Linked DNA regions of Homo sapiens. The protein of the gene in region 1 interacts with the protein of each later gene in a pairwise test. Each region holds a gene or a part of one and is shown in the gene's direction. Other genes may lie near its edges.

What was found.
Region 2: the proteins of CNKSR3 (region 1) and NMI interact in binary tests that used the Homo sapiens proteins (3 or more experiments, as listed by UniProt).
Region 3: the proteins of CNKSR3 (region 1) and N4BP3 interact in binary tests that used the Homo sapiens proteins (3 or more experiments, as listed by UniProt).
Region 4: the proteins of CNKSR3 (region 1) and JRK interact in binary tests that used the Homo sapiens proteins (3 or more experiments, as listed by UniProt).

Annotation. Positions count from the first base shown.
Region 1 is NC_000006.12:154,500,660-154,507,695, reverse strand, and holds part of CNKSR3 (connector enhancer of kinase suppressor of ras 3), read left to right. Parts: intron 1-7,036. UniProt on the Homo sapiens protein: Involved in transepithelial sodium transport. Regulates aldosterone-induced and epithelial sodium channel (ENaC)-mediated sodium transport through regulation of ENaC cell surface expression.
Region 2 is NC_000002.12:151,269,939-151,272,673, reverse strand, and holds the end of NMI (N-myc-interactor), read left to right. Parts: intron 1-941; coding exon 942-1,048; intron 1,049-1,798; coding exon 1,799-1,981; 3' UTR 1,982-2,204; downstream 2,205-2,735. UniProt on the Homo sapiens protein: Acts as a signaling pathway regulator involved in innate immune system response.
Region 3 is NC_000005.10:178,116,527-178,123,562, forward strand, and holds part of N4BP3 (NEDD4-binding protein 3), read left to right. Parts: exon of another isoform or gene 1-3,027; 5' UTR 3,028-3,057; coding exon 3,058-3,387; intron 3,388-3,651; coding exon 3,652-4,173; intron 4,174-4,571; coding exon 4,572-4,826; intron 4,827-4,947; coding exon 4,948-5,475; 3' UTR 5,476-7,036.
Region 4 is NC_000008.11:142,666,932-142,674,537, reverse strand, and holds the start of JRK (jerky protein homolog), read left to right. Parts: upstream 1-4,570; 5' UTR 4,571-4,606; intron 4,607-4,858; exon of another isoform or gene 4,859-6,322; intron 6,323-6,328; exon of another isoform or gene 6,329-7,493; intron 7,494-7,606. UniProt on the Homo sapiens protein: May bind DNA.

The DNA of each region.
Region 1 (7,036 bases):
TGCCCTTTTGGACCCTGAAATACAGCTTAGTAGAAAGACCTGGATACGTTCTGTGTTCGAATCTAAAAAAGATGGCTAAGATGATAAGAGGCTGCAATCTTCCAAGTTGCGTGACCCATTACTTGAATATTTCTCATAATAATGATGCTCAAGTATTGACTTTTTAATGAACTATCGACTTACAAAAGCTCGTCTGCTTATAGGACTATTTTTAGTGCTCTTTGCTAATCTCTTTACCCAACCTTTATTTTATAAATACATGCTACTGATAAGCAGCTCTTCATGTAGACTTTGCTACTCTTGGTATTGCATGAATCTGGGTAGGGCGATTATGAGAACCATAGAAGGCCTTAGATTTAAAACTGTCTAAACCTGGCCACAGTCGACAGCTGGATCTCACCTCCTTGTTATTTGACAGATGTGTGCCTTAGGAAAGAAGTTCTTGTCTACAGAATGAATTAACCTGTCTGGCTTTTATTATTAATGTTTAGCTACACTGTCACCAATTTTACCGTAATGTTAGTGGATCCTCAGTAATTATTAAGCAGTGTGTCAGGCACATGTCTAAGCATTGTACAAATATCAGCTCATTTAATAGGCACCACCACCTTTGAGGTAGGAACAGTTATTTCCATTTTGCAGTTGAGGAAACCGAGTCACACACAGATTGACCGATGTCACCCAGCAGAGCAGGTGGTTTGGCTTCACTCCACTCCATTTTCTCAGGAGTTTCTTCCCAAGGCCACATCTAGACCACACCGACAATCTTTACATTTATGAATAGAACTTCAGGATTCGGTCTGAATAGCATATGGTAGCGGAGGAGTCTCATCCAGTATATGTCTGTGTTATTCTCTATCTTTAGTTCATGTCAGAAAGTTATTTGTAAGTCAAATTAATTCCTAGTTCATGGCGCCTTGCCAGTCAGTTCAGTAAAGGCCTTTGCAAAGCAAATGATCTTTTACAACGTGTAGGGTTAGCCGCACATAACAGAAAACCCAGTGGGTTAACCAAATTGGGGTTCCATGGCGCTGCCATCTTGTTCAGCCATTCGTAGCACATGGCGTAGGGTATGGCCTGGCACATGGTGTTCATTTTCATACTTAATGCTTCAGTGCAAGGTGGCGGCTCCTGCATGATTGTCTTCCTATTCCAGGCAGAAGGGAGTCTCATGGAAGACAGAAGACAGGTAGCAGCCAAGTCTTCCCCTTTAAAGAGTTCTTTGAAAAACTGTCAAGTGACCTGGTTTACATCTCAGGTGCCAGAAATGTCACATGGCCACCTCATGCAGCAGGGAAGGCTGGTTGCTGTAATTTCTTTCTTTTTCCTTCTTTTGTTTCTTTTCTTCTTTCTCTTTCCTCCCTCCCTCACTACCTCCTTCCTCCCCTTTCCTCTCTTTTCCTTTCTTTTCCTTTTCATTTCTTCTTCCTTTTTTGCTTTTTCCCTTCCTTTCTTTTTTTTTAAGTTTGGTACATTGTGGCCCTGAAAAAAACTTGGAGTTTGGTCAGAAAGGAAAAAGGGGAGAATAGATATTGGTAGGCAGGCAACAGGGATTTACATGCACTGATTTTCATAGCTCAGTTCTCAGAGTACACATGTGCCACATTCCCTACTTATATCCAGCCCTGTTTTAGAAAAAGCATTATATCTTCATTCCTGTCCAACCTTCTTAGGTCAAAATCTGAACTTATATGAGGTCCTTTTCTCTAAGCTTGATTTAAATATGAGAAATTTCATTGTCAAATGCAGCTACCACAAGTCGTTTTTCTGCTTTAAAAAGGCCACTGGGGAGTGCCTTCGACGAGGAAGACGTGGGACTGGTTGTCCCAGCAGAACTGTCCTAGCCTTGGCTGTTGATCAGCCTCGAGTGGGTAGGCTCTCAACAATTGTGTAGTTGGCCAGGCGCGGTGGCTCACGCCTGTAATCCCAGCACTTTGGGAGGCCGAGGTGGGCGGATCACAAGGTCAGGAGATCGAGACCATCCTGACCAACATGGTGAAACCCCATCTCTACTAAAAAATACAAAAAAAATTAGCCGGGTGTGGTGGTGGGCGCCTGTAGTCCCAGCTACTCGGGAGGCTGAGGCAGGAGAATGGCATGAACCCGGGAGGCGGAGGCTGCAGTGAGCCGAGATCGTGCCACTGCACTCCAGCCTAGGCGACAGAGTGAGACTCTGTCTCAAAAAAAAAAAAAAAAAAATAATAATAATAATAAAATTGTGTAGTTGAGTCAGCACATCTCTAAAACCCACCTTTGGTCCCAGGACAGAAGTCTCTCTGGCCAGCTTCTGGTGCTGCTAGTGTTGGTAGCAGTCCCCATCACCAACCAAGAGAAAAGGGGGCTTTCTTGCTCAAGGTCTAAGCCACGGGACTTGCTCTTTCCCTGTCGTGTCTATTTGTTTATGACACATAGCAGTCTTAAGGTGCTTGACTATTTGGCCATGGAAAGTCTGGAATTTCCAAGTTAACTACAGAGATCTGATACATCACAGGTCAACTGCAATGTACTACCTTGCACTGTTAGGCCCTTCCTGCCACCGTCCAGACAGAGGCAGTTCTTTCTGTTACCTTGATTCCAGTTTAGGTTATACCTTCTCTTTTAGTCTCTGTGGTCCCTGGGAAAGGGAGGCCTTTTTGTTTTAGCAGCCGTAGGTCTACCATTTGGCCATAGTTCAGAAAAGCTCTTCATTCCACCCTCTCCTTGGTTCCATTCACTCTCCTGCACTCCAGTGATAAAATTCTCTTAATAACAGAAAAACATTGATTGATGCACTTATTATCTTGGCAGACGCTGTTCTAAGTGTTTATTTAGGCTCTCTCATTATAAAACTTCTTTACTTATTATTTTTTAATACAGAGATGGGGTCTCACTCTGTTGCCCAGGCTGATCTTGTCCTGAGCTCAAGTGATCCTCCCACCTCGGCCTCCCAGAGTGCTGGGATTACAAATGTGAGACATTGCACCTGTCCAGCCTCTTTGATTTCATCCTTAGAAAACCCAGTGAGGTGTTTGAATAATTTCCAGCCCATATTAAAGAAACTGAAGCAGAGAGAGAATTTGCTCAGGGTCCCCTAATTAGTAGTTGTGGTCTCCTTGGGGCTCTCCTGTACTCCATCACTTTGTCACTTTGATTACTTGTACCAGGGGGTGGAGCTGAATGGTTCAGAGCATGGGCTCTGGAGCCGGACTCAGTTTGTATCCCAGTTCTGCTTTTGACTGTGTGATCTTATGTAAGCTCTCCATACATTTCTACTCCTTGTTTTTATTGCTTTCTCTCTTCCTTTTTCCTATAGCTCCAGGACACAAACTGTTTTCTCTGAGCAGTGAAGTCTTTCATAAGGTGTATTCTTATCATCCAGGGGCACCTGTCAGTGTCAAAGAGATTTCTCTGCCGTTTACCAGCTGGTCAGAGGATCCGGGGCAGAACTTGCAGCTGATCAGGAAGGTTCTTGATTAGCGGAGTGATAAATGCCTCTTGCAAATTTCGTGAGCTTTCCTTGGGTAAATTAGTTTGAGCCATATTTCCTCACTTTTAAAAAATAGTACCTGGGCTTGCAGTGAGCATGGCATAGGATGGTTTTTGCTGTCAACTGTTGGCCCCTGTCTGGTACCTGGTCTGTGACCAGCAACTTCAGCATCACCTGGGAGCTTGTTAGAGATGCAGAAGCTTGGGCCTGCCGAATCAGAATCTGCATTTTAATAAGATCCCCTGGCGATTCGTGCACCCATCACAATTAGAGAAGCACTGTTCTAGCACGTAGCTGCAAATGTGTTTTCAAACTTTGCTAGAGTCCTGCTATTGTAGTATTGGGCTATCTGGTCTGGTATGTACTCCAGCTGTTTTATTTACATTCTGGAATGATGACACTTAATTTGAGAAGGCTTGTCTTTGCCACTAATTAAAGTAAAAAACCAGTCTTACGGTGTGTGCTTATATTTATAAGCACCACCTAGCAACAGCATCAGGCAATTCTTAGCAAAATAAGTGAGACATTTCCCTTGAGATTTCTTCCTTATTCCTTGAAGAGTTCTTATAACAGCCTTTTTTTTTTTTTTAAATAAGAGGCAGGGTCTTGCTCTCTTGCCCAGGTTAGAAAGCAGTGGTACGATCATAGCTCATTTTAGCCTCAAACTCCAGGGCTTGAGGCTTGAGTGATCATCCTGTGTCATCCTCCCAAGTAGCTGGGACCACAGGCACATGCCACTACACCTGGCTAATTAAAAAAAAAATCTTTGTAGAGATGGGTCTTGTGGTATTGCCCAGGCTGGTCTGGAACTCCTGGTCTGCAGTGATCCTCCCGGCTCGGTCTCCCAAAGTGTTGGAATTACAGATGGGAGCCACCATGCTCAGGACCAACCCCTGCCCCCCTTTAAAAAAAAATCTTTAACACAAGTAGTAAGAAGGGAGTTGTGGGGTGGTCAGTGGTCACTGTGGTTGAAGTTTGTTCTCAGGATCCTCAGTAGGACCTAGGAGGATGAGATGGGCTTTTGGCTAGTCACACTATCCTATAGTTGGTGACCACACGGGGTTTACCACACTTAACTGACTTTTGGTGGAGATTTTATTGTTGATGGGAAATGACACCAAATGTCATTTCAGGAATAAATAACCATGGCAGTTCTAAAAACTTGGCACAAATATATGAGTTGCGCTGAGACTGGGGTAGCTCCATCCTTTATCCATGGAGATTGGCAAGTGACAACTCCTGCTCCGGCTCCTTCGTGCATTCCCCTTATTGTGAGGAAGCGAGAGGGGCCCTCCCGTCTGTGTCCCCATGCCTGTGTCACTGCCTCTCTTTTCACCCAGCGTGTTGTCTTCTAGCTCCCGGACCTGAGCGTTCTTGCCTTGCTTTCTCTCTTTCCTCTCATTTATGCTATTTCTGGCGTGTCATCACTGGCTTACCCATTATGTAAGCTTTAAGTGAAAAAATCAGATGTTATTTTCATGAGCTCTGAGGGCACTTCTGCATTTGTTCTCATTTGACTCTTCTGAAGCCTGGAGATGCACAGGAAGGCAGTTTCCACTGCAGATGAGCAGCATGGAGGAGGCTTTTGGAAGTGAAATGAATTGTCCAAGGTCCAGAGGTGAGGAGCTGGGACCAGGCCTCACAGGCTTCTGTTCTGTGGTCCTGTCCCGTCCCTGGTTTCTGCTCTATCCAGGTGGTGCCTTCTAGTTCCTTCCTAACCAACAAGTGTGGGAGGCTGGGTGTGGTGGCTCACGCCTGTAATCCCAGCACTTTGGGAGGCCGAGGTGGGTGGATCACCTGAGGTCAGGAGTTTGAGACCAGCCTGGCCAACATGGTGAAACCCCGTCTCTACTAAAAAAAAAAAAAAAAAATTAGCTGGGCATGGTGGTGGGCACCTGTAATCCCAGCTACTCAGGAGACTGAGGCAGGAGAATCTCTTGAACCCGGGAGGCAGAGGTTGCAGTGAGCTGAGATCGTGCCACTGCACTCCAACCTGGGCGACAAGAGCAAAACTCCATCTCAAAAAAAAAAAAAGAAGAAATATAGGGAAAGCCCTTTGCATAACGTATGGCATATGTGTGGAATTAAAAGAGGAAATACAGGGAAAGCCCCTTGCATAACGTATGGCGTATGTGTTTACCCACTTATTATTCATGATCAATAATAACTCAAGTTAACTGGTGGTGTAATTGGGATATTTTTATTTAAATGTTTAATATTGTTGTGGCTGATTGTCACCCTTCATGTGCTTATTAATAATTTATGACAATTCCATTCACCCTTTTGTTGTTATACAGGAGGTAAGTTAAATCAAGTCCGTCTTCGGTCTTCTCATTGTTTCCTTGGACGCTTTCCCCCTGTTCTTAGGGGAATCTTCTCGGTTTTAGGTATTGTTCTAAGTGCTGGGAATCCATAGTCCCGGCTTTAGTGTGGTAGATGTGTGGGTGACAAACGCCACCACCAACCACAAAACAGATGATAAGAAAATTTCTACTGATAAGCATAAATCAGAAAATAAAGCAGAGAGGTGAAGGAGAGGGACTGGGTGGGGGACTCCTTTGGATGACGTCATCAGAAAGCCTTTCAGAGGTGACATTTAGGCATGAATGGTAGGAAGGAACCAGCCATCAGAAAATTAGGGAGAAGGGCATTCTAGGAGAGGGAATAACTCATGCAAAGGCCCTGAGGTGCGAACCGGCTTGGAGAGTTTGAGAAAAGGAAGTTGTGGTGGGGTCATGAGAGCGAGGGTGGGGGTGATGGGTGAAGAGCAGGTGAGAGAGACACACAGAGGCCAGATCATGTAGGTTCTTACAAGTCGTGGTCAGGGAGGTGCAATTTTTTATTTTTATTTTTTAATAGTTACGGTGGAAAGCAGAGAGTGACAGTATTTGATCTGTGTGTTGAAAGATCAGTCAGGGTTTTTGAGCAGAAATGAATTCAGGAAATCCAGCTGGAAGGCATTGCAGTATTCTGGAGGCGATGGTGTCTTGGATTCAGGTGTTGGCAGTTTCAGCCTTTGTGAAGCCAAGTTCTAGTTACAGTTGGGTCATTGACAGCTTCCAATCTCAGTAATGTAAACATTATATTTGAAGTTGGGATGTCTGCTCATTCTTTCCCCTCCTGCCAGGGCTAAGGTAGATGCTCTCCTCTGCCCCTGGCTCCTCTCTGGCCAAGTATGATGGTCATTTAGAATAGAGAGCGCCCTCTGTCTTTCTGCCTTGTTCACATCATTGTTATTTTCTGGCACTTTTTGCTGCGGCTAGTTTCTGAAGCTGTTTATTCATCTATGAATAGAGTTTTTGTGAAATTGGACTTAGCCTACTTTGTTTTCTTTGACATCAAATGGCTGATTGAACATTTTTAAACCTGGGATCAGAAGGGCAAATATGGTTGTTTATTAAAGCAAAGCAGTTCCTTAGAATGCGAATCAATAAGATGTAGAAATTAGAAAGCTTTCTATGTGAAAACTTTTAAAGTATTTGAGTAAAGAAACTGGTGTATCTGACTTAAAATATTTTGCCCTACTGAAAGACTATCCTAATGTTTGCTTTAGAAACTATAGCTCCCATA
Region 2 (2,735 bases), on another chromosome or scaffold:
TGGGTTGCTTCCACCTTTTGCCTATTGTGAAAAATACTGCTCTGAGCATTAACGAGCAAGTATCTGTCCGAGTCCCTGCTTTCAGTTGTTTCGGGTATATACCCAGAAGTTGAATTGCTGGATCATATCATGTTCTATTTTAATATTTTGGGGAACTGTCATACTGTTTTCTACAGTGGCTGTACCATTTTACATTTCTATCAGCATTGCCTCAGGGTTTCAATTTCTCCATATTCTCGCCAATGAGGGCCTACACTCTTAATCATTGTACCATATTGCTGATCCAAGGTAGATGAGTGAGAAGAGTCATAAAAAACATGGTTGTATATTCCCAAGAACTGTTTTTGTTAAATGTTACAGTCTTGACACACATCCTTTCACCACTCTAGGAGAAAAAAATACTGCTAAAAAATAGACTATTCTTTGTGTTGTAGAAAACTGATGAATTTTTATTTCCTTTCAGTTTTTCTAGATGACATTCAATCCCCTCCCTGCTTTGGTTAACATCATTACTTCAGTTTATTGAATATATTGAAAAAAATGTATATAGTATTCTAATCATAGTTTTCACTTACAGCTTTTGAGAAACTGGGAAACAGTCCAGTCTTGTTAGATGAGTGGGTTACTTTCTGCAAAAGACTATGGTATTTTTTATAGCTCAAAGTAGATCTGTCTGAGGACATTGCAACCCTTTGTGCATTGATTGACTGCAGTGAATAATTCAAGATGGAATGAAGGCTTTAAACCTCATTATTGTTTGGTCTTGTAGTTTTCAAAATTATGTACTGTGAAGTCTTCAAAGTGGGCTTTAGAATTTCTTAAAAATTAATCTTTTAACTCAATATTTACTGTAATAGTGTTCTCTTTGAAGGAAGTTTTAACTTTGGTTAAAAATGCTTATGATATAAAAAAGACAAGTATTGTTTTTGTTTTGCTTTTAGTGGCTGACAAGATTTTGAAAAAGAAAGAATACCCTCTTTATATAAATCAAACCTGCCATAGAGTTACTGTTTCTCCATACACAGAAATACACTTGAAAAAGTATCAGGTAAAGTCATCTCTGTTCTCTCATTTTCAGAACTCACTGCCCAAACCCACCCCACAAAAAATAAAGTTGTTGTGAGTCTGTTACTTATGCATCTTATCAATGAGGGATAGCAAAATGGTTTCTTTACTTCATTTTTGCTTGGTGCAAAATGAGTTTGTCTTTTGAAGGAGCATTTTAATGCAAAACTGTACTTTATTATACAATTTTTAAAACTGAAATTACTCAGATAATGGCACAATTTTTATTTTTGTACATGGAGACATAGTTGCATTTCTCTCATATGTCTACTGTCAGTGAGCATGAGAAAGAATTCCTGCCTACTTTCTCTGAACTCATTATCTTTACCCCAGACCTGCTCCCTTTTCCTCTTCCTTCTCAGGTATCCAATGGTACCACCATCTACCTACTCCACCAACTTAAAAGCTAGAACTCATACTTAACTCTTCAGTTTGCTTCACCTCCAACATTCATTTGGTCACTAAATCTTGCCAGCTCCACTTCTGACTACCTCTTTACCTGGTCTTTCTGTTCCCAGAGCATCCCTCCTTTCCTCTGTGTTCCATAATGCCACCAGAGTTCTCTTTCTAAAACTCAGATCTGACTTGGATATTCTCTTGCTTGGAAAATCTTCCTAAGATTTCTTGTCTCTTCTAAGATAAAATAAAAAATATTAAGCAGAGATTATGAATGTAAAGTTTTGTAATTCAAAGCTCTTAGAAATCTTTCTATTTATCATTTTTTCCTTCTTAGATATTTTCAGGAACATCTAAGAGGACAGTGCTTCTGACAGGAATGGAAGGCATTCAAATGGATGAAGAAATTGTGGAGGATTTAATTAACATTCACTTTCAACGGGCAAAGAATGGAGGTGGAGAAGTAGATGTGGTCAAGTGTTCTCTAGGTCAACCTCACATAGCATACTTTGAAGAATAGACTTAACAGAATCATGAAAACTATAGCTTTTTAACCCGGATTACTGTAAATGTTTGACAAAAATGAATATGCTTTTCCTTAAAAAATGAAAACTTTAATTTTTACCATCCATTTATGTTTAGATACAAAACTTATTTCCATGTTTCTGAATCTTCTTTGTTTCAAATGGTGCTGCATGTTTTCAACTACAATAAGTGCACTGTAATAAAAAGTTTTGTTTATAGATTATGTGTATTGGTGCCATGTCTGCTGAAATCAACCTTAAGTGATTCAGATGTCCCCTGCCAGTGCTGGCTCATCCTGTTATGGTCTTGTGGGCCAATTCAGTTGTGGCCCCATGCCCACCAATATGCAGACTTGACTCTTAACATTTTCCAAAACAAAGGCAGTTACATTCAGCAGTTGGTGATTCCTGTAAACTCAACTGAAGATTCGAAGGACTTCAAGAGCAACCATTTACCACTGTGCATAGCATTTCACTCCACAACTCTAAAGGTTCTCAGAGCTGAGTGTGATCTTTTTCTTGAATTTCTGTTCACCCAAGTGCCAAGTGTCCCTTGATTCCTTCCAAGCCATCCCCTCTCCAAATAGAGCTCGTAAAGGACTAGCTTTTTCTTTCTTTTGCACTTACAATGGAAACAATTGGTATAAGAGTTTGAAAACCTTGGCATGGAGAGAGAGGTAAATACAAAGTTAGTGACTCATCACTTATCATGCTCGATGCTGGGGAATGACTGGAGGTAAAAACACAGTA
Region 3 (7,036 bases), on another chromosome or scaffold:
CTTTGTCAGTGTGTCCTGTGGGTGACCTTGTGCACAGCTGTATGATTGTGTTTGCTGCTGGACGTGACCGTCTGCACCGTGTCCTCTAACATGGGCTCTCTGTGCTGCTGGGTGGGGCTGACATGTGGCACACCGTGGCGTGTGTGGTTGTATGCGCTGTTGCGGCCGGTGGCTACCTCTAGCTCAGGGACTTTCCCTGGACCTGCGATGCCTCGTGGGGAACCTGGGGGTCGGTTATCTCCTCGAGACAGGAAGTGAGCATCTGCCCACCGGAAGCTGAGGCGGTGTGCATTTGGGGTGAGGTGGGCGTATTTGGCACTGCTGCCAACGTCCCCGCCCCCAGGGCCACACAGGGCTTACATTTCATAAGCCCTTTCCCCTCCATCTCTGACTGTCAGTAATCCTTTGAGGAAAGCCGGGCAGGCGGGGTCTTTCCCACTTCATTTTTTTTTCCTTTTTAAAAATAAATAGAGATGGGGTCTCGCTATGTTGCTAAGGGTGGTTTCAAACTCCTGGGGTCAAGTGATCCTCCTGCCTCAGCCTCCCAAAGTGCTGGGATTACAGGTGTGAGCCACCATGCCTGGCCCTTTCCCGCTTCAGAGATGCAGAAACTGAGGCATGGCAAAAGGCGGAGCATTTGTGTCTGGGGTCCCCTGGAGAGAGTGAGGGCAGGCTGGAGAGCAGGTCTCTGCTGTCCCCTCCCCAAGAAGCAGCAACAGGAGTTGAGCGTGCTTGTGGACAAACCACATCTCTGGCTGGATGGGCTTGTCGTGGCAAGGAGGTATCAGATGAGGAGGCAGGATGCTTCCATTCTAATACTTTTGGCTGTAGGGACCAATCCTAGGTCCCACTAGACATTGGGCAGCCATGACCAGCTACGACCTTGGGCAAGTCACTTCACCTTTCTGAGCCCCACTGACCTTTAAGAAGGGTCAATAGCTGGGCACAGTGTCACGCACCTGTGTTTTTAGCTACTCAGGAGGCTGAAGTGGGAAGATGGCTTGATCCTAGGAGTTCGAGGCTGCAGTGGGCCATGGTTGCACTACTGTAGTCCAGCCTGGGTGACAGAGTGAAGAGCAAGACCCTGTCTCAAAAAAAAAAAAAAAAAAAAAGAAGGGACAATAACTCTGTCACAGGACTCAGCAGGACCCGTATGCAGGGCCAAGTCGCTGTAGGAACCCATCCCCTGTGATTCCTTACCTGGATGCATCTCCTATGTAGCCTGCAACGTGCGTTCTCAGGGGCTGGGCTGGGTGGGGTGTGCAAACCCGGATTCGCCCCATCCTGGGTTTGGGGGTTGGTTGGGGGAGAGCTGAGGTCATTTTTGCACAGGGTGAGGTGAGGCTGTGGGGTTGGGGCAGGTCCCCCTCCCGGAGAGCTTTGTCTTCCACAAACACAAAACCTGGAAATGGTTGAGGAAGATGGAACCTCCTAACGACCATTGTTCGGGGGCAGGAGTGGGTGCCCGGAAGCATGGGTGGTAGTAGGGGACCCACAGCTGCAGCTGGCCTGCTGGGCTTCTGTTCGAGAATGGGAGCAGCTGCTCAGGGGTGGGAGGCAGAGAAGGTGGCATTTGTTCACTCGGCCAGACCTTTCTGCACGCCCGCTCCATGCTGGGCACTGGGCTGTGCAGAGGATCCCCAGGGGACTAGGTACCAGCCCTGCCTCCAGAGTGTGTGGCCCAGCACAGGTGGAAGGTGGTCCGTCAGCCTAGTCCCTTGGTGATGTTTGTGTGCCTGGCTGAGCTCGGCTCCAGCCAGCCTGTTGACCCTGGCTGTGGCCCAGGCCCTGAACTGGGTGCTCTGTCATGTTATCCCACCCCATCCTCCCAGCATCCCAGTGATAAGTGTTATTGTCGCCAGGGTGTGTGTGCGGAAGTCCAGGCTCACTGAGGTTAGTGGCTTGGCCGGGGTCACACACCGATTGGTTCCGCCAGGGTTAGGATTTGGGACCCACCCTGCCGGGTGGTGGGCTTTGGAATAAGAGCATATACAGGGGCTGGAGTGAGTCCAGCTGCCCCTTCCCTCCTCCACCCACCACTGCCCAGACGGGAACACCTGTCCCGGAAACTGTGGCCATTGTTCACGTCATCCTTCCTCCTTTTGGGCCCTTCCTGTTTGTATCCCTCCCACTGTAGCCCCCAACCCTCCCCCCCATGCCAGATGTTTCCCTTGGGGAGCTTTGCCCTTTGCAGGAAGAGGGCCTGCAGGGGTTACCCCTCTCCCATGGGAAGGAGGGTCTCACTGGCCTTGGGTCTCTGTGCCTTCTCCCCACCCCACAGATTTGGTGGGGAACATGGCAGGAGGGTAAGCAAGGTCAGGTTCAGCCAGGCTGAGTTTTCTTTTTTTTTTTTTTTTGAGATGGAGTCTCCCTCTGTCGCCCATGCTGGAGTGCAGTGGTGCGATCTCGGCTCACTGCAAGCTCTGCCTCCCAGGTTCATGCCATTCTCCAGCCTCAGCCTCCCGAGTAGCTGGGACTACAGGCGCCCACCACCATGCCCGGCTAGTTTTTGTATTTTTAGTAGAGATGGGGTTTCACAGTGTTAGCCAGGATGGTCTGCGTTTCCTGACCTTGTGATCTGCCTGCCTTAGCCTCCCAAAGTGCTGGGATTACAGGCGTGAGCCACCGCGCCCGGCCAAGTTTGTCTTCCTTAGCCCTGTGCGGGCCCAGTGCTGGGAGGACGGCTCCTGTCCTGCTGCTTCCAGGCCTATCCCCTCCCGGTACTTCTGAATCCCACACAGGCCCCGAGGTGGAGCTGGCCCTTCGGTGCTCGGCTGGGGCACCATTGCTCTTCCTTAGACTCAGTCCAGCAAGTGACAGATGGGCAGGTGGCTTTGGGGCTTGTACTTCTTTCTCTTGCCAGTCTAGGGATCCTGTCCCGGGGTTCTCTCTTGGACCCACATCTGCCTTACCTGGGCCTGGGCAAGGTTGTGGGGAGCTACAGGGAGCAAGTACCTTGTTTTCAGGCCCCAGGGAAGTTGGGCAGCCAGTGCTCACCTGCCCCTAATGGAGCCTCCCAATTCCCAGAAGCAGCTGCCTGTACCCTGTTGAAACTTCATGGCCACAGCCCCAGGCCCTGCTGGCATTGCCATGGGCAGCGTGGGCAGCCTGTTGGAACGGCAGGACTTCTCCCCTGAAGAGCTGCGGGCGGCACTTGCCGGGTCTCGGGGCTCCCGCCAGCCTGATGGGCTCCTCCGGAAGGGCTTGGGCCAGCGTGAGTTCCTCAGCTACCTGCACCTCCCCAAGAAGGACAGCAAGAGCACCAAGAACACCAAGCGGGCCCCTCGGAACGAGCCTGCCGACTATGCCACCCTCTACTACCGGGAACATTCTCGCGCGGGTGACTTCAGCAAGACCTCGCTGCCAGAACGGGGTCGCTTTGACAAGGTGCACCTTTGCCCATGCCCCTTACAAGGTGTGGGGAGGGTGGGGTCTCCTTGGAGACCCTGATGTTGGGATGGGGTGGGGACGGGGCATGCTGAGATACGAAAATCGTGCTATGGGCTGGCCTGAGGTTTGTTCACTGCCTCCTGGTGGCACGTGCCCCGCGGTCTCAAAGAGGATCCCTCAGGGGCTGTGAGAGCATCAGGAGGTAGAGCAGGCAGCTGCCCAGGTCTCACACCTGCCCTCTCTGCCCTCTCTTCCTGGCAGTGCCGCATTCGCCCCTCAGTGTTCAAGCCTACGGCGGGCAACGGGAAAGGCTTCCTATCCATGCAAAGTCTGGCGTCCCACAAAGGCCAGAAGCTGTGGCGCAGCAATGGCAGCCTGCACACGCTGGCCTGCCACCCGCCCCTGAGCCCCGGGCCCCGGGCCAGCCAGGCCCGGGCACAGCTGCTGCACGCCCTCAGCCTAGATGAGGGCGGCCCTGAGCCCGAGCCCAGCCTGTCCGACTCCTCCAGTGGGGGTAGTTTTGGTCGCAGTCCTGGTACTGGCCCTAGCCCCTTCAGCTCCTCCCTTGGCCACCTTAACCACCTCGGGGGCTCCCTGGACCGGGCCTCTCAAGGACCCAAGGAGGCTGGGCCACCAGCTGTGCTGAGCTGCCTGCCCGAGCCACCACCCCCCTACGAGTTCTCCTGCTCCTCTGCCGAGGAAATGGGAGCCGTGCTGCCCGAGACCTGTGAGGAGCTCAAGAGGGGCCTTGGCGATGAGGACGGCTCCAACCCCTTCACGCAGGTGAGGGAGCCCCTGCCCTGGAGTCCTGTTCTGTGCCTCAGCACTGGGGTACAGGCCAGAGAGAGGGGCCCCAGCCAGTTCACCCACGTGGCCGTGGACACAAGAGAGCAAGAAAGGGGGAGCTGGCTTGGCTTCCTTCCTCTGCATCCCAGGTGGTGGGGATGTCATGTCACTGGGGGTCCTTGCCTGGGAGTTGTGTGGGAAGGAGAGAGGCTCCCTGGGAGGGCCATGTGATGGGGACACCTCACCCTGGAGGGCATCCCGGGTTAAAGCGCATGTGTGGCTGGGTCCTGTGGTGTAGGGGCACAGGATATGATCAGTGGCTGGAGTATCAGGTGGAGCTCTGAGTCGCCTCTAGGGGGCAGGGCCACGGTGGATGCATCTCTTCCCCTTGACAGGTGCTGGAGGAGCGCCAGCGGCTGTGGCTGGCTGAGCTGAAGCGCCTGTATGTGGAGCGGCTGCACGAGGTGACCCAGAAGGCTGAGCGCAGCGAGCGCAACCTCCAGCTGCAGCTGTTTATGGCTCAGCAGGAGCAGCGGCGCCTGCGCAAGGAGCTGCGGGCTCAGCAGGGCCTGGCTCCGGAGCCTCGGGCCCCCGGCACCCTCCCAGAGGCTGACCCCAGTGCACGACCAGAGGAGGAAGCCCGATGGGAGGTGAGAGATGACACAGGGCTCCGAGACTCTCCCATCTCCATTGCCGGTCCCTTCTTCTGCCTGCCCCCTCCCAAACCGGCTCCCCACACCCTACTTTGCTTGCGTCCTCCCCATCCCCCAGGTGTGCCAGAAGACAGCAGAGATTAGCCTCTTGAAGCAGCAGCTGCGTGAAGCCCAGGCGGAACTGGCCCAGAAGCTGGCGGAGATCTTCAGTCTGAAGACACAACTTCGGGGCAGCCGGGCACAAGCCCAGGCTCAGGACGCAGAGCTGGTCCGGCTGCGCGAGGCTGTGCGCAGCCTGCAGGAGCAGGCCCCTCGGGAGGAAGCCCCAGGCAGCTGTGAGACTGATGACTGCAAGAGCAGGGGCCTGCTAGGGGAGGCAGGAGGCAGCGAGGCCAGAGACAGTGCTGAGCAGCTGCGGGCTGAGCTGCTGCAGGAGCGACTTCGGGGCCAGGAGCAGGCGCTGCGCTTTGAGCAGGAGCGGCGGACTTGGCAGGAGGAGAAGGAGCGCGTGCTGCGCTACCAGCGGGAGATCCAGGGAGGGTACATGGACATGTACCGCCGCAACCAGGCACTGGAGCAGGAACTGCGGGCACTGCGGGAGCCCCCCACACCCTGGAGTCCCCGGCTCGAGTCCTCCAAGATCTGAGGCCAGCAGAGCGAGCTGACAGCAGCAACACTGTCAGAAGGTGCCCTGAGACGGCCGGCTCAGCCTTCCCTTGCACTGGTTGGGGTGGAACCTGCAGAGGCCAGCCCGGGGCTGGGGAGGCGCAAGGAGAGGAGGGATCCAGTGGGGCCGTGGGCTGGGTAGGGTGCCTTGGCAGGAGCCAGGACAAGGCCCTCCTGGCAGAGGAGCACCTAGGCAGGGCCCAGCCCTGCTTCCTGGAGTGGATGTGGCCCAGAGAAGGAGGCTGGGGGATCACCAGCCCCAAGGTCCCGAAGGGCAGGTCAGAGGGAGAGAGGCTGGAGACCTGGGCTGGGGCCTTCCTCCAGGGAAGGAGGCTGGGGTGGGAACACTGGCCTCCCCCAGAATAAAACCATGTTTTCTACCAGAGGCTCAGAATACGCTGAGCCTGTGACCAGAGGATGATGGATGGTCGGGATTGAGGCTGTTGACCTGGGCAGTAGCTCCTCCCATGGCCAGTGGTCAGTGGGAGGGTGTGCCCTGCGCCTGTCTGCATGGCCACTGGGCATGTGTGTTGGGAGCAGAGGAGTCCTACTCCTTGCCTCAGCCCCACACGGTTCCTTAGCTGCCGTGTGGGCTGAAATTCCTTTCTTTAGCACCAGTGGAGTTTTCAGAAGGAACAACACCAGGGAATGCCAAAAAAACAAAGGGCAAGTCAACCAAGGCATTTTGAGAACATGAAATGTCTTCTTGGTGGGAAGGCTGGGCCCCAGGAGTATCCACAGGCTCAGGCCATGCCCCTCCCCGCACCCACCTCCTGTCTCCCTCCCTCCCTCCATAGGAGTGGGGGGCCCCTAGAAGTGCTCTGCCTCATTCCCTGTTCGTAGGAAGGTGCAGGAGAGGAGGTGGGCAAGCTTATGGGTTTCTTGGTAAAGAGCCTTTACCACAGCAAGGAATGGGAACATTTCCCCATCAGCAACGGGGCTCTAGGGCATTATTAAGTAGGGGTGAAATATGATTGATTTGCATTCTGGAAAGCTCTCCCAGGAGGAAGCATTCCCCACCCCACCTTGCCTCTGTCCTGCGCTGGGCTCCAGGACGGTCAGTCCTCCCGGATCCCTGCTCTCAGCTAAGGCTGGTCCCTAAAACCCACACCTGCCTTTGGTCTCTCAGAGGCCTGGCTTGCCCTCTGGGCCTTTGCTCCCCCGCTGGGTGCCCGGCCTGGAACACAGGTTCTGTCTGGCTGTGTGAGTGGCGTCTCTCCCTTCCTTTGAGGGAAGCTCAGCTTTCTTACGCGCTCATCGTTGGACGGGCTGCCATGCATTGCGTGCTTACTGGGCGCCAGGTGCTGTGCTGGGCCCTTGTGAGTGTGGGGGCACAGGCTGAATTAGATGAGCTCCTGCCGCAGGGGGCCCTGCACACTGATGTCAGCTCACCAGTCTCTTCCCTGACAGGGCAGCTCAGGGAACTTCTGAGAAGTTATCTGCAGAGAGCCCCACCTCACTCCCTTTGGCTACCCTGGCCGTGCCTGGCAGCCCCTCAGGCCCCACAGGTGGGTCCTGGTTGTGAAGTGGAGTTAGTGCAC
Region 4 (7,606 bases), on another chromosome or scaffold:
GGCATAACAGCCCTTTTCCAAAACTCAGCCATCTTTGTAAAGCTAACGAAAGGCCACCACTGCATGAGGAAGATGAGGGGATCTGCGCTCTGCTGAGGTTAGACTGAAATGATTCCCAGCCGTTATTCATTAGGAAGATGGGGGATCTGAGCTCTGCTGAGGTTAGACTGAAACGATTCCCAGCCGTTATTCATTAGGAAGATGAGGGGAGTCTGAGCTCTGCTGAGGTTAGACTGAAACGATTCCCAGCCGTTATTCATTAGGAAGATGGGGGATCTGAGCTCTGCTGAGGTTAGACTGAAACGATTCCCAGCCGTTATTCATTAGGAAGATGGGGGATCTGAGCTCTGCAGAGGTTAGACTGAAACGATTCCCAGCCGTTATTCATTAGGAAGATGGGGGATCTGAGCTCTGCTGAGGTTAGACTGAAACGATTCCCAGCCGTTATTCATTAGGAAGATGAGGGGATCTGAGCTCTGCTGAGGTTAGACTGAAACGATTCCCAGCCGTTATTCATTAGGAAGATGGGTGATCTGCGCTCTGCTGAGGTTAGACTGAAACGATTCCCAGCCGTTATTCATTAGGAAGATGAGGGGATCTGAGCTCTGCTGAGGTTAGACTGAAACGACTCCCAGCCGTTATTCCAGGGACCACAAGATTTGCAACTCCCCCAATTACTCCTGCAAGTAACATCACTATTGTGATCCTAAGATTGGCCTTGTGAGATGTCGTTTCAGGTTTTTGCACGTCTAATGACTGATGGATGGCTCTAGCGAGGCCCACCAACCCCGCAGCCGGTCCTGTGGCCCCACCTGGACGCAAACTCAGTGCACAGGAGGACCATTTTCCACATCCCCAGCCAACCAGCAGCACCCATTCCCTGGCCCACCAGACTCTCCTTGAAAAACCCTAGCGTCCGAATTTTCTGAGAGGCTGATTTGAGTGATGATAAAACTCTGGTCTCCCGTTCAGCTGGCTCTGCATGAATTAAACTCTTTCTCTATGGCAATTCCCCTGTCTTGCTAAATCAGCTCTATCTTGCCAGGGGTCAAAATGAACCCACTGGGTGATTACACGCTAGTGTATTTTCTTCCTCTCTTTCTGACCCCTCCCAGTGTCAGAATGGACTTGGTCCTCGAGAAGAGGCCCAAGGTTCCGTGAGTAATGGTAGGAGCACCTGGAGGAGCCCCATGCATCTTGGGATGAGGCCCCAGTTTCATGCCAATCCCCACTGCCCACCAGCACTGTCCAAGTCCTGGGAGACCACGTGATCCCATGTCCCTGAGGTGGCAGTTAAAAATAGGAGTTAAAAATAAATTATTTAGGCAGATAGTGAGGGTAAGGAAGTCCTCAGTAAGGTTTTCCTTTTAATGAAAAGCAGGCTCCAAATCATTTTCTTTTCTAACAAAGAGCAGCCTGTAAAATCGAGCCGCAAACATAAGACAAGCAAGCTGGAAGCTTGCACGCGTGAATGCCAGCAGTTGTGCCAATGGGAAAAAGCTACCTGAGACTAGGCATGATCAAAATGGCAGCTCCATCTTCCCTTCTCTTTGCCAGCCATGTGTACAGCAAGGAGCAGACAAGATGGTGCTGGCCAAGTAGAAGCCCATTTGCATAATAAGATTAGGGTGGGGCGACCAGCCTTCCCCACGCCATATGTAAACATCACCCTTGGTCATACCAATCTGTGGGCCCTTTGTAAATCAGACACTGCCTCCTCAAGCCTGCCTATAAAATCTGCTGGGGTCTGCTGCAGGCTGGCTTTTCTCTTTTGGACGCCTCTTTCGAAAGAGAGGGCTGCTCTCTTCTCTCCTTTCTTCTGTCTATTAAACTTTCTGCTCCTTAACCCATCTACATGAGTCCATGTCCTTAATCTTCTTGGTGTGAGACAATGAACCCCAGGTATTTACCCCAATGATGCTGCTTCAGCAGCAGAGTCGCACCAGGGATGGAGCCAGCCTTCCGGGGGAGGGAGGACTTTGCTGTCCCAGGAGACCCTGCCATGGGAGCCCCAGTCCAGGGACCTTGGGTTCCAGTCCTGCCATGTGCCTGGTATGCTCCGTGACTCAGCCTCCTCTGTGAAACACATCTGACTCTAGCATGGCCAAATTCCTGCCCCACAGAATCATCTGCAATAAAAACAGTTGGTTTCAAGCTGCTAAGTTTTGGGCGGTTTTTGATGCAGCAGTTGATAGCTGTATGGGGGTAAGGGCAGAAACAGAGACTGGGGAGGAGGCAAGACCACAGAGGTGTGGATTGGGGAGGGCAGTTGGAGGGAGTGAGAAGAGGCCAAACACTGGCTGGATTTTGAGGGTAGAGGATCTGGATATGAGGGATGGAGACTGTTGAGGCTGAGCCTGAGTGAATAGCAAGGTGAGCTGCCGTTCATGAAGGTGGGGGCAATGCAGATGGAGCAAGGCTGGGCTGGAGGATCAAAGCTAAGCAGAGACATTGGCTAGCACATAGGAGTCTGGATTTCTGGGGAGGGGCCCTGGCAGGAGACATGAATTTGGTCGTTGCCAGTGTTGGATGGTATTTAACGGCATGACACTGGAGGAGATCACCCAGGGAGTGGGGACTGGTTGAACAAAAAGAGCCAAAGAATGGCCTGGTCAGTAAGGAACCAGCAAGGGAGGGTGAGGAAGAGAAGAACCAGAGGGTGGGAGGGTGCTGGGAGCCCAGGTAACAACGGACCTAAGGATGAGTGAGCTGGCACATGGGCTCGTGCCTGGAATCCCAGCATTTTGGGATCGCTTGAGTCCACGAGCTCGAGACCAGCCTAGGCAACACAGCTAGACCTCGTTTCCACAAAAAATTAAAAAGATAGGTGAGACAGTGCATGCTTGTAGTCCCAGCTACTCTGGGGGTTGAGGCAGGAGGATCCCTTGAGCCCAGGAGGTTGAAGCTGCGGTGAGGAGAATGTACCACTGCACTCCAGCCTGGGCAACAGAGTGAGACCCTACCTCAAAAAAGGAAAAAGGAGGAGTGAGCTACCCAAATCTGTATTTGTTTATTATTGCTGTCCTAACAAATTACCATAAACGTGGTGATCCAAAACAATACAAATTTATATCTTACAGCTCTGGGTTCAGAAGTCTAATGGCACAATGAGTGTCATGGGCTAAGATCAAGGGGTCAGCAGGCTGCATTCCTTCTGCTGGCTCCAGGAGAGGCCCTGTTTCCTTGTCTCTCCCAGCCACTAGAAGCCGCTCATAGTCCTTGGCTTGTGGCCCCTTCCTCCATCTTCAAAGCACATCACTCCAACCCCTGTGTCTGTTGTCACATTTCCTTTTCTCTCCTCTTTCATCCCATTGTCCTCTCACTTGGCTTCCTAACTCCCACAAGAACCCCTGATATGGCACCTGCCCTCCTATCTGAACCCGTGGGCTCTGCATCCAGATGGAACCAACCGAGGATACAAACAATTCGGAAAAAAACCTGTGTCTGTACTGAACATGTACAAATTTTTCTCTTGTCACTATTCCCTAAACAATACTGTATAACAACTATCTACATAGCGCTTACATTGTATTAGGTATTATAAGTAATCTAGAAGTGACTTAACGTATACGGGAAGATGTGTGTAGGTTATATGCAAATACGAAGCCATTTTATGTAAGGGATTTGAGCATCAAGGATTTTAGCATCCTTGAGAAGTGCTGGAACCAATCCTCTATGGATACCCAGGGACGACTGCACATTGGGCTCACCCTGATAAACATAAGAATCTCTCCACCTAAAGAATCTTAACTTCATTGCATTTGCAGTCCCTTTTGCCATGTAAGTAATGTATTCACAAGACCTGGAAGTTAGGATGTGGACATCCTTGGAGGGCCATTATTCTGCCCACCACAGTCCACCCTCCAGTTTCCAAAATTTGCATAGGTCCCATGGGCAAAATCCACGCACCCATCTCAAGGTCCTCCACAGCCTCAACTCATTACAGCACCAACTCAGGTCCATACTCACTTAAGTCGCACCCAGTTCAAAAGTTTCAAATCCCATCGTCTGAATCATCTAAATTGGGTATGGATTGGACCCCAGCTAAGTAAGGGGGTCAAGCAGGCGGGCTGAGCACTGGTCCTGGTGACCGGAAGGCAGCACTGCCCTCCCCGCATCAGAAACTGCACCGGGAAGACCGTCCTGGGCTGATCGGCACGAAACCCTGGGCGCCTGTGGCTGCCCCAGAACTGCAGGAGCCCCAACGCCTTCAGCGCAGGGTTCACTGTCATGAAAGGAATGTGACGCCCTGCGCCCATTCTACAGATGGAGAGAGCAGGGCGGAGCCCGGGGCCCAGGCCGCGCGCCCCGCCTTCGCCCCGTTTCCCCTCTCCCCTCCCTGCCCGCGCCTTCTCCCCTCCCACGCCTCCCCCCACCCTGGGACCCCCCCACTCCTCTCCTCCAGGCCTCCTCTCCTCCCACGCCCTCCGCGGCCACCCAGCTCTTTGAAAGCCTGCGTCTGGCTCCCAGACACCACCGAGTGCTGAGTCCTCCAGCCTGTCTAGAGCGTCCCGGAAGTAGCTGGGGGAAGGCGACGAGGCGCGGACTGGAGGAGAACCGAGTGGCCGGCACTTCCGGCCGGCGGCGGCTGCTCCGGGTGAGCAGGGTGAGTAGGGTCCTGGCCTGAGGCGCTGGGCGGCCGGGCCGGGCCGGATGGGTGCGGGCGCTCTCCGGTCCCTGGTGGGCGCGGGCGGCGCGGGCGGGAGCCGCAGTCTGGGCAGGCGGGCGCGCGGGGCGGGGCGGGGTTGGTCGCGAGGCTGCGGGGCCGGACCCAGCCGCGGGCGGCAGCGCCCCCTCCCGGGAGCCGCGCTCGGAACCCGAAGCCCTGTGCTTCCCGCGCGACCCCCGCGGCCTGAGCGCGCGGCCCCCGAGCCGCACCCACCCCTTGCCGCCAGGCCTGGCCTTGACGCCCCAGCCCGGACCCTTCCTGCGCTTCCACTCTCAGAGAGGCTTGGTCACGAGGTCCGCTTGCCCTTAAAAAACCAGACCGAGACTTTTTTTTCTCCATTTCTGTTTTTGTTCTTGTTCTTGTCCCAGACTGAATTTCTACCCACAAACGGGGACCCTGGGGTACGGACGCTTTTTAAGCGAGCCTCGCCAGTAGCCCAGCGCTGTCTCTGCGCCAGGATCCCCCAGCGTGGAGGGCTCCTAGCGGAACTCGGCGCCGGCTCTCGGGCGCTCTCTGCGGGGCGCACGGCCCCAGGCTTTCTGTCCCCTCCTTCTCTGTCCCATACTCTCCTTCTGACCCCCAGCTCACCTCTTCCCCCAGCTCCAGAATGCGACTTGTTTTTTGAGTATTTCTCCTTCATATCCTCCATACCCCCCAACACACACACGCACACACACACACACACACACACACACACACACACACTATGCCCCTGCGAAGGTTGTTTCCCGCTTTCCCCCCGCGTTTCTCAGGGCCTCTTAGCCTCACACAGGACGGAGTCAGCCCCAGCGCTGGCCCCTCAGGCCTCCCGTTTCTTGTCTGTGCCTTGGGCACAGGAGAATTGCACGTTTCATCCCGTGTTCACGTGGCCTTGGGGATCAGTGCTTCCTCTCCAGTCGCAAGGCAAGAAACCACCCTAATTTCGGGGAGACAGGGAATCCCACAGTAGCTTGTGAGGGGCTGACTGGGGACTGGGATGCCGGGAAAAGCGTCCTGGAGGAGACTCAGCACCAGACACGGGCTCCTTGTGGACACGTCTCCATGCCTGACGTGCAGGTGTGGCAGGATGACACAAACTGGCAGAACACACTGTTGTCCCACTTGCAAGACCAAAAACTTCCTTTAAAAATAAAATTCAGATATTCCTTATGAAACAAGTTCAGCCACTTTGTGTCATCCTGCTACACCTGCATGTCAGGCATGGAGACGTGTCCGCGAGGAGCTGTGTCTGGTGTTGAGTCTCCTCCAGGAAGCTTTTCTCTGCATCCCAGTCCCCAGTTAGTCCCTCATAAGCTACTGTGGGATTCCGTGTCTCCCCCAGTTTTTCTACAGCGGGTTCATATTAAAAATCTGGAGGGTGGTTTGTGGCCTTGCCTTCCCTCCTGTTCCCCATGGTGAGATGCACATAGCTCACTGTGCTGTGCCAGACCGCACACACGTCACACCGTCACCCTCAGCGAACAATGCAGGATCCTTAAGGGACCAGCCCACATTTTGCAGACCAGGAAACTGACTCCGGAAGAGGACAGTACTCACCCAGAGGTGGCAGCCAACAAGCCTATAATTTTTCTTTGGAGCTTTTGCTGCATTTGATTGCACTCCTCCTTTCCCTTGAGCTCTGGCCTCAAAGGGCTGCGTTTCTGCGCTCCACATGTAAGTAGGCCTTTGGCCACACGCTCTGCATGGAGTTGGCAGAAGCAGCTATGGTAAGGACGCGGGAGGGAGGTGGGAACTCCAGGAGTCCATCCTCAAGTACTGCTGGCCTGCGGAGGAGTGAGGGCAGGGAGACCCCTGCCCATAGCACGCACGCCACACTGAGGCGGCCAGCTGAGCTGCCCGGTGTTTGGGCAAACAGCTTTTCAGCCCTCACCACCCTCAGCAGTGTCTTAACTGGGTGAAGTGCATTGCAGGCCCTGACTCCATAGGCTGCCCTGGCCTCACAGGGGTGCGCCCTCTGTGCCCTGCCAGTCGGCTCGGGTGTAGGGAGGGTTGTGGGGTGTTTCGCAGAGTTGTTATGAGAGGGTGAAATTGTCCACCTAGAAGGGATGAGAATGACCCGCATTGTCTTTATATAGGAGAAGGGTGAGAAGTTAGTTCAAAACTCCAACAGAAAGATGTGTTTGGTTAGAGCTGTGACATTTCTATGTCATTTTTCTTCCTATTGGTCAAAGGTGTGTGTGAAACTTAAAAGCAAGCTTTTCGTAGGGTGCACAGCTGGCCCAGGAAGAACCCTTGCTCCCAGGGGGCTATCAGGTTTCCTGGCATTTGCTTCTGGCGTAAATTAGTCATTTGTTCATAGAGCCTCCCAAATTAGCAAATGCTAAAGAAGTTCCTGCTCTGGGCTAGCTTGTTCCTGTGTCCTCTGAGCGTGTATGTGTGAGTGAGGTTGGGTGGCTGTGTGTGTGTGTGTGTGTGTGTGTGTGTGTGTGTGTGTGTCTCCGTGTCCGTCCATGTCTGGCAGGCTCTGCGGCCCTGCCGTGGTTGTGGAGCCAGGTGGGCGGGCAGCACTAGAGCCTGGGGTTTCAGAGACCAGCGGCTCAGTGTGGCTGCCTGGGGCAGGGTACCCTGAGCTGAGCTTGAGGGGTCCCCTCTGGAAGAGGCCTGGAATGGTCACAGCTGTCTGTCTGCTGCGGCTCCTTGTAGACGCATCTGAGTGTGTGGCAGTCAGGGAGGTCAGAGGGTGATTGAGAAACTGGCAGCACCTCCTAGCCCTTGGAGGAGCTTGAGGCCTGCTGTTCTAGAGAAACTTCTAATGCCTTGTTTTCTAGAGGCAGTTTGGCGCTCTGTGTCGGAGAGAGGAGTTTAGAGACCTGCTCCAGATGGGGTTTGTAAGATCTTTGGCGGGGAGGGTAGTGAGGAGTTCCTCCTCCCTGCATCCCTCCACCCCTGCCTCTGCTCCTCAGGGAGGAATAAGGGATTTGAGAAGCTCAGGTAGCC